2 separate regions of the Homo sapiens genome follow, and region 2 is linked to region 1. The links come from fine-mapping of genetic effects on gene expression. A gene starts in region 1. The other region holds a variant in brackets. All regions are shown on one strand. Distances are from middle to middle.

Region 1 (4,381 bases):
ACCCAGAAACCCAGTAACTCCTGCCCAGAGACCAGCCCCACCGCAATCCCCCAAGATTCAAATTAAGCCTGGCCATTGCAAACCTGCCCCTCACCACCATAGCTGCCCCAAGGATTCAACTGTTCTTCTGCCCTGAACAAGAACATGCCACAGATGTGAAACTACAGCACAGAGAGGCTGAAACCACAGCATAGAGAGGCTGAAACCATCCTGAGGCTATGGCAGTTAGTCTGGCTGGCTGGCAGGAGCGAGAGCTGGTAACCCGCTGCTGTCCTTAGGCAAGTCTCTCTCTGACTGAGGCTAAGATGCGAAGAGATAATTCTTTAGGTCACCCAGGTTAAAGCAAGTTCCAGGTCTCAGCTTCCTTGGGACTCTTTAAGTCTGAGGACTCTTTAAGCCTCAGGAGTCAATACGAAGCAGGCTAGGGAAGAACAGCCCAAATAGCTGAGAGTTCCCTTGTGACAACTTGTGGGTTCCAGAGCCAAATGGAGACACCTGGAAGAGCAACCAGATTCAAATCCCCATCCCTGAGACTGCAGGCATGGTGAAGGAACACTGGAGTTTGGGGCCGACATACTCGGGTTCCCATCCTTGCCTGGTCGCTGGCCAACTTCAGGGAGTCAATTTAAGTTGTCAGTTGCCTCATCTGTAAAAGTAGAGCTAATACTCCTCCCTCCAAGAGTGTGTGGAAGGGAAGGGCACGGTTTCTCATCTACACAAGAGAAGGTGCTCCTCGGACCCCCAGTCTGTTATGCTCCAGCAGCTACTCTCAGAGATCACAAAATCACTTCGAGGAGGCTCAGGTTCAGATCTACTTCTCAGGCAAGAACTGAGGCACCAGAAGCTGCAGTATGTAATCACCTGGAGAGCTTCCACAGCCTGCCTGGGACTTAACCTCCCTAGGGCCCAGTTTCCTCCCTATCAAATGAAGATCATGATATGATCCCTGTTTTTTTTTTTTTTTGAGACGGAGTTTCACCCTCGTTGCCCAGGCTGGAGTGCAATGGTGCGAGCTCAGCTCACCGCAACCTCCGCCTCTCAGGTTCAAGTCATTCTCCTGCCTCAGCCTCCTGAGTAGCTGGGATTACAGGCATGTGCCACCACGCCCAGCTAATTTGCATTTTTAGTAGAGACAGGGGTTTCTCCATGTTGGTCAGGCTGCTCTTGGAATTCTCAACTTCAAGTGATCCACCCGCCTCGGCCTCCCAAAGTGCTGGGATTACAGGTGTGAGCTACTACGCCCAGCCTGATCCCTGCTTTCAAAAGGCTGTTTGGGAGAAAGAAAGGACACAGCCGGGTGTGGTGGCTCACGCCTGTAATCCCAGCACTTTGAGAGGCTGAGGCAGGCAGATCACGAGGTCAGGAGATCGAGACCATCCTGGCTAACACGATGAAACCCCGTCTCTACTAAAAATGCAAAAAATTAGCCAGGCGTGGTGGCGGGCGCCTGTAGTCCTAGCTACTCGGGAGGCTGAGGCAGGAGAATGGCGTGAACCCCGAAGGCGGGGCTTGCAGTGAGCTGAGATCGCACCACTGCACTCCAGCCTGGGCGACAGAGGGAGACTCTGTCAAAGAAAGAAAGAAAGGAAAGAAAGAAAAAAAGAAATGACACAAAGAAAGTGAACGTGTCACTTTCTTTTTTGTCTATGTTGCCCAGGCTGGTCTCGAACTCCTGGGCACATGTGGTCTGCCCACCTTGGCCTCCCAAAGTTCTGGGATTACAAGCATGAACCACATCAGCCTTCACTTTTCATTCATATAATCTCATTTGAATTTCACAGCTATGTTAAACAAGCTCATTTTACAAATGAGAGCGAGGACCCAACCTGGCCAGTAAACTAGTGACAGAGCCTCTGACTTCTGTGAGTTTTCCACATCTGAATGTACCTTATTATTTCTTAGTCGATACATAAATTATCTTTAATGAAAAAGAAGACAAGCCAGAGCTACTTCTCCAGGGCTGGGGTCCCAGGAGGGTGTGGAAGAGGAGATGCGGGTGGGACCCACCTCGGGCTCCCACGGAGGACACGCTGCTTCGGTGGGATCGCTCAGCGGGGCCGGGCTGCCCGGCACTGCCTTCTGTCCCGTCCATCTGCAAAGGCAAAGAGAAACAGCAGTTACCGGGAGCCAGGGATGGGGGGCTGGAGGTCTCCTCAAGCTCTCGGTGAGTACGGTAAGGGATCCCAGGCTGGGTCCGCAAGGTTGAGCGGCGCTGCCTGGAGGGGCCAAGAGTGCAGACCGGGCGCTGGTGGGAGGGGTGCGGGTTGCTACGGTCAAGAACCGGGGGTCGACCTGGATGCCCAGGCAGGGCAAGGCGCACGCCCAGCCGGGGACGGAGGCCCGGGCCAGACGTCGCTGTGCTCTCACCTCGCAGGGTCGCAGAGCCCGCCACCTGAGAGGCAAGGCTCCTGCCTGGAATCCTGCCCCGCCGCCAAGCCCGCCACCGCCCGCACTCGGGCTCCCGCTAAGGACGCAGCTGACCGGGAAGCGACGCGGAAGCCACGGCGGGAGGAAGCGCGGCGCCCGAGGCCCCGCCCCCTTCGACCCGGGGGAGCCAATGGGAGCCCAGGGCCGCCCCGCGCGGCCCGCGCATGCCCGGACGCCAGCCTCGCGTGTCTCATCACGCCCGTGGGGTGGCCGCGTCACGTACCAGCCCCGCCACCACCAGAGTGACCCAGAGCGAGTTTCCCTTCACAAAGGCCCCGACTGTTGGCCTGTAAGAGGGTTTGGCGAAGATTCGAGAATCAGGCTAGGGGCGTTGGCCTGCCCACGCTGGGTCTTCGGGCTAGTTCCCTGCCTGTGAAATGGACACTTCCTGGCACGTGCCAGGGATCCATGCGGCGCTGGCAGCGGCCTGTACCGTGGCGCTCTCGGCAGTGGTCAGGAGAATGAGTCCTGGCCCAGACTCATCCTGGACAAGTCCCTTCTCCTCTGGGCCTCAGTTTTCCTCATCTGTAAAATGAGGTGGTTGAACTGAATGACCCCCAAGGACTATCCCTACTCTCTAAATGATTATTAATATATGTCTATGTCGGCCGGGCGCGGTGGCTCACGCCTGTAATCCCAGCACTTTGGGAGGCCGAGGCGGGCGGATCACGAGGTCAGGAGATCCAGACCATCCTGGCTAACACGATGAAACCCCGTCTCTACTAAAAATACAAAAAATTAGCCGGGCGAGGTGGCGGGCGCCTGTAGTCCCAGCTACGCGGGAAGGCTGAGGCAGGAGAATGGTGTGAACCCCAGGGGGCGGAGCCTGCAGTGAGCCGAGATCACACCACTGCACTCTAGCCTGGGCGACGGCGAGACTCCGTCTGAAAAAAAAAAAAAATTTATATATATATGTCTAAATCAGAAAACCAGGACAGACACTCTGTTTTTCCAGGGAGCAGTGACATGAGCCCTTACTATCTTACACAACAGCCTGGGAGACCTTGAGGTTTTCCCAGGCTGGGAGGAGACTTGGGGCCCCAAAGAGGCAGGTGTGAAACCACCTACCCTCAGGGCCATGTCACTGACATGTCCTGGTAATGCAACATGTGTGCATCTGAGATGTGGAACTCAGGGAGAAAAATAAGTCCATGGGGCACCTTCTGGGGCCAGAGGAACCAGAAGTTGTCCCAAGTGACAGCAGTGGGCTTGGTGATCAGGAACAGAGGGCAGTGGGTTCACTTTGCCCTGGTTCCCTGGGATTGGAAAGCAGCTCTAGCTCCTGACCCAGTCCAGCCTTCTTTGGTATGTGAACCAGCTCTGCCTGCCCTCCTATGATCCACACTGCCCCACAGCTGAGCCCATGACATCACATTTGCCTTGCCAATGTGACTTAAGGACTTGAGGAAGCTCAGATGTGGGCTGCAGGGAAGGGTGTCCAGTGGGGGCAGGCATCTCCTTCCTGGTTCTCAGCTCTGGGACCCTCAGACCAGGACACACTGTATCTCCATGGCCTCTTGACCCAGCTGGAGTGAAGCAGGAGCAGAAGAGTTCAGTGTTGTTTTGAATGCTTACTGGATGCGGGGCTTGTGCTAGGTCAGGGGATGGAGACTGAGGGGAGACGTGGCCCTGCCCTCAGAAAGTGTCTGTTGTGGTTTAATTGGTGAGTTAAGGAAGAGGGGAAAGAGAAAGAAGCCCAGGAGAACAGCACATTTAAAACCACAGCACTTTGGGAGGCCGAGGCAGGAGGATCGCCTGAGGCCAGGAGTTCAAGACCAGCCTGGGGAACATAGTGAGACGCCATCTGTAAAAAACCCAAAAATTAGCCAGGTGTGGTGGCACACATCTGTGGTCCTAGCCATTCAGGAGCCTGAGGTGGGAGGATCGCTGGAGCCCAGGAGTGTGAGCTCACAGTGAGCTCTGATAGCGCCATCCTGCCACTGTATTCCAGCCT
Region 2 (4,381 bases), 64 kb after region 1:
GCCTGTAGTCTCAACTACTCGGGAGGCTGAGGCAGGGGAATCGCTTGAACCCGGGAGGCGGAGATTGCAGTGAGCTCAGATCGTGCCACTGCACTCCAGCCTGGCACCAGAGCAAGACTCCATCTCAAAACAAAAACAAAAATAATTAGCCGGGCATGGTGGCAGGCACCTGTAATCCCAGCTACTCGGGAGGCTGAGGCAGGAGAATCGCTTGAACCTGGGAGGCGGAGGTTGTAGTGAGCTGAGATCGTGCCACTGCACTCTAGCCTGGGCGACAGAGCAAGACTCCGTCTCGAAATAAATAAATAAATAAATAAAATGTCCAGAAATAATAAAAAAATGCATTCTCACACACACACACACACACACACACACACACACACACACACACACACTGTGTAATGTTTGTGAAAGGCTGGGGGAGTGGTGGGTGTCTGGGATTCCAAGGTCACACAGGTAGAAAAGAACTGGCTGAGGGTGGAAGAAGGGGCCACCGGGCCCCACCTTAGGCCACTCCCCTCCTCTCTGTCTCCACCATCCTCACCTGGGTCCAGTCCTCCTGCTCATGCCTGCCATGGCTACCTCCATCCCCGACCTGGCGTGGGTGATGTCGTTCCTCAGGTCTAGATCTGACCACCTATCTCTTCTGCTTTCACGTCCTTCAGCAGCACCCCATCGCCTCAGCGTCAGCCTGGCCAGCGAAACTCTTCCCTGCTGCCGCCAGCCTGTGTTCCAGCTTCACAGTCCCGCCCTTCCCGAGCCCCAGTTCTTTCCTTCATCACACACTGCAACCATTTGTAACACCTTTCCTGGACGGGCATGGTGGCTCATGCCTGTAATACCAGCACTTTGGGAGGCTGAGGCGGGCGGATCAACTGGGGTCAGAAGTTCGAGACCAGCCTGGCCAACATGGTGAAACCCCGTCTCTACTAAAAATACACAAAATTAGCTGGGAGCAGTGGCAGGCATCTGCAATCCCAGCTACTCGAGAGGCTGAGGCAGAAGAATTGCTTGAATCTGGGAAGCGGAGGTTGCAGTGAGCCGAGATTGTGCCACTGCACTCTAGCCCAGGTGACAGAGTGAGACTCTGTCACACACAAAAAAACAAACAAATAGACAACAAAACAAAAAATTAGCCAGGCATGGTGGCGTGCACCTGTAATCCAAGCTACCTGGAAGGCTGAGGCAGGAGAGTAGCTTGAACCCGGGAGGCAGAGTTTAGTTAGCTGAGACTGTGCCATTGCACTCCGGCCTGAGCAACAGAGTGAGACTCCGTCTCAACAGAAAAAAACAAAACAAAACAAAACAACAACAACAACAACAAAAAACCCTTCCCTGTGGCTAGTATAAATGTTATCCCTAGTTTTCTCAATAACCCTGTGAGGTAGCTATCAGTGGCTCTTTTTTTTTTTTTTTTTTTTTTGAGATAGAGTCTCACTCTGTCACCAAGGCTGGAGTGGAGTAGCGCAATCTCGGCTCACCGCAACCTCCAGCTTCCGGGTTCAAGTGATTCTCCTGCCTCAGCCTCCCTAGTAGCTAGGATTACAGGCACGTGCCACCATGCCCAGCTAATTTTTGTATTTTTAGTAGAGACGGGGTTTCACCATGTTGGCCAGGATGGTCTCGATCTCCTGACCTCATGATCCACCCACCTTGGCCTCCCAAAGTGCTGGGGTTACAGGTGTGAGCCACCATGCCTGGCCTGCTCCATTTTAGAGATGGGGAAACTGAGTCTCAGGCCAGGTGCAACTCGGAGGTCCACGCTCTTTTGCTGTGTGGTGTCTGCTCTGTCTTCACTCTGGTTCCTCAGTGCCTGTGCTTACATATGAGTTATCTGGCTGGTAGCTCCGATTTGGCTCAGAATCACATCTGATCACATTAATGAGCCCTGACACTCCCTGACCTCCCTGCTAGGCATTCCTGATCACGTTGTTTTCTTCGTAGCCTTTACCACTGCTGGAAATCATCTCTTATTTGTTTACCAATTTAATATCCCCCTTCCAACTAGAATTTAAACTCTTAGAGAGCAGGGATGGCGTCTGCCTTGTATCCCCAGCACCCGGAGCCGTGCCTTGTATACTGGAGATGCTCAGTAAACAGCCGTGGATGGAATGAATCTTGAAGCAGCACTGTTAGACCCTCCCAGCTCCAAGCATCCCTCCTGCATGCTCCCTCGGTGCTCTTAAGCTGGAGAAGCTGTTGGTCCCTTGCACACTTTGTGGTTATTCTTTTATTCTTGGGTGTCCCCCACCAGACCCCAGCTGACTGGGCAGGGATTGGCCCCAGGCTTGGCACAGTGCCAAGCCCACCC[C/G]AGTGCTCAGCCACCTCTTGCCAAACATCTGAATCAATGTCACAGCAACACTTGGTTTGCTCCTGTTGCATTCTCATGACAGGCTCAGCGTCAGGTACGACGTTCTTGAGGGCAAGGCCTGTCCTCCACAAAGCCCTCTGGGGCTGGGGTCTCCAGAGGCAAGCCCTCAGCTCTGGGAGACTGTCTGCCTCCGGGAGGAAACCTGGGGCAAAGGGACAGGGAGCTCCGCCACCAGCAGCAGCATGTTTTATTGCAACCAGAATCCCCGGTCACGTGGGGAAGGGATTGGAGCTAGGGATGAGGCAGGACACATCTGGTCCCTGACAGGACACTCCCCGTCCAGGATGCAAAGCCAAAGGCCCGGAACAGCCTGCTCAGTGGCTGAGCCCTGTGGCCAGCTGTGCCCTGTCTCTTCCCCTGCCCCCAGTCAGGGCATCCAACGGGGCAGAGGCAGAAGGGACGTGAAAAGGGGGGTCGGTTTCAGCAAAGCCTTCACCCAGGGACCTGAAGGAAGAAGGAGTATTGTGATGGGGTCCAGGTGCCCCAAGATGCTCAGGGCGCCTGGGCTGACTTCAGGATGTGTCCATGTGGTTATCAGAGGAAAGCGATGGGGCCTGCCCTGCCCACGTGGAGAGGGAGGGAGAGGGGAAACACGGCTCAGAAGGAGAATCACTGGCCAGCGACCATACAGGTGGGATCTTGGGACCCTGACTCCGCCGCCAGGGCCGGGTCCACACCCCACCTCCTGGCTGGGCCCCACCTGGGACCCCAGCCTAGGCAGCCTCGTGTCCTATGTGGGGATCTGCATGCTGTCCAGGTCCTGATCCATGATCTGCAGGACATCATCCAGGATGGAAGGCCCCAGGTCCACGTGCAGGGACAGCAGGGAGCTGGCATTGGACAGGAAGGGCTCCTCGGCCCCTGACTCCGGGGTCAGTCCACTGTTGGGGGAGCCAGTCTCTGGAATCCTCCAGATGTCCACACTCCCTCCCTCCTGTGGGGAAGGCTGAGGGGTCTCCAGGTGCAGGCGAGGGGGCTTGGGTGGAGCCTGGGCTGTGGGCAGGGTGAGAGCCTGGGGTCCACCGATAACCGGGAGGGAGATGGCGTTCTTGAGCAGAGGGGATGGGCCGTCCGGGAGCTCCCGCCCACACACGGTGGCGGTGCGGGTGAACTGGAAGGGGAGGTCGAAGGTGCCATCTTCTTCAGGCCCCTCCACCATGGTCCCCGGCAGGAGGTGGAACTTGCCCTGCAGGAAGGAGATGTCGCCAAACATGTCACTGCCGCCGCCACTGCCAATATGAATGGTGTGGCGGAAGTCCCCCAGCGGTGGGCTGATCATGTCCGAGGACAGCAGGTCCCGAAGCTTCTCCTTCTTGCCCTTGCGACTGCCACGCTTCAGATAGATGGGCACCTTGGTGGACATGGTGACCTCACCACCAGGCCTGGCTGTGAGGCTACGGGCCGCCTGCTGAGACCACACCTCCTCTCCAACCCTCAGCCAGAGGAAACACTCGTTCCACGGGGTGGTTTGCAGGTGCCAGAGCTCGCCAACGGGCTTCTGGCTACAGTGTGGGGGCACGAACAAAGTTGGCCCAAGGAATTAAAAAAGATTAGAGATCAATGAAGTCAGTGGGCTGAGATAACAAAAATCACGTTCTCCCCAAAGGACGGCAAACTCTTCTGAAGAATTGAAGCCAGAAAGGTAGGAACTGTGTGGGCAGCAGTGCACTTTGGTCTTGTCACCGAGGGTTACTTGTCCCCGGTCCAGGGCTGAGGAGCTGAAACACAAAGGGTGCACACCTGTCAGAGACAGCGGGACCAAGGTCAGATGCAAACATCTTTTTTATTTTTAAGATGGAGTCTCACTGTGTCACCCAGGCTGGAGTGCAGTGGCGCAATCTCAGCTCACTGCAGCCTCCACCTCCCAGGTTCAAGCAATTCTTCTGCCTCAGCCTCCTGAGTAGCTGGGACTACAGGCACGTGTCACCATGCCTGGCTAATTTTTGCATTTTTTTTTAGTAGAGACAGGGTTTCACCATGTTAGCCAGGCTGATCTTGAACTCCTGACCT

The links. PIP is the estimated chance that this variant, and not a neighbour inherited with it, causes the effect.
Region 2: its variant is the best candidate, but not a certain one, in a credible set for the expression of FRMD8 in whole blood (TOPMed, PIP 0.52).

The regions. Positions count from the first base shown.
Region 1 is chr11:65,384,748-65,389,128 of GRCh38, reverse strand. FRMD8 (FERM domain containing 8) reads right to left here and starts at 2,492. Exons shown (of 11, transcript NM_031904.5): 1 at 2,368-2,492; 2 at 2,008-2,092. The coding sequence starts at 2,092. RefSeq lists enhancers at 1-148, 2,188-2,776 and a silencer at 2,106-2,685.
Region 2 is chr11:65,320,252-65,324,632 of GRCh38, reverse strand. It overlaps CDC42EP2 (CDC42 effector protein 2), which reads right to left. Exons shown (of 2, transcript NM_006779.4): 2 at 2,216-4,089. The coding sequence starts at 3,734. The coding sequence ends at 3,102. LOC124902691 (a long non-coding RNA gene) reads right to left here and starts at 888. Exons shown (of 2, transcript XR_007062728.1): 1 at 545-888. The variant C/G (reference allele first, on the strand shown) is at 2,312.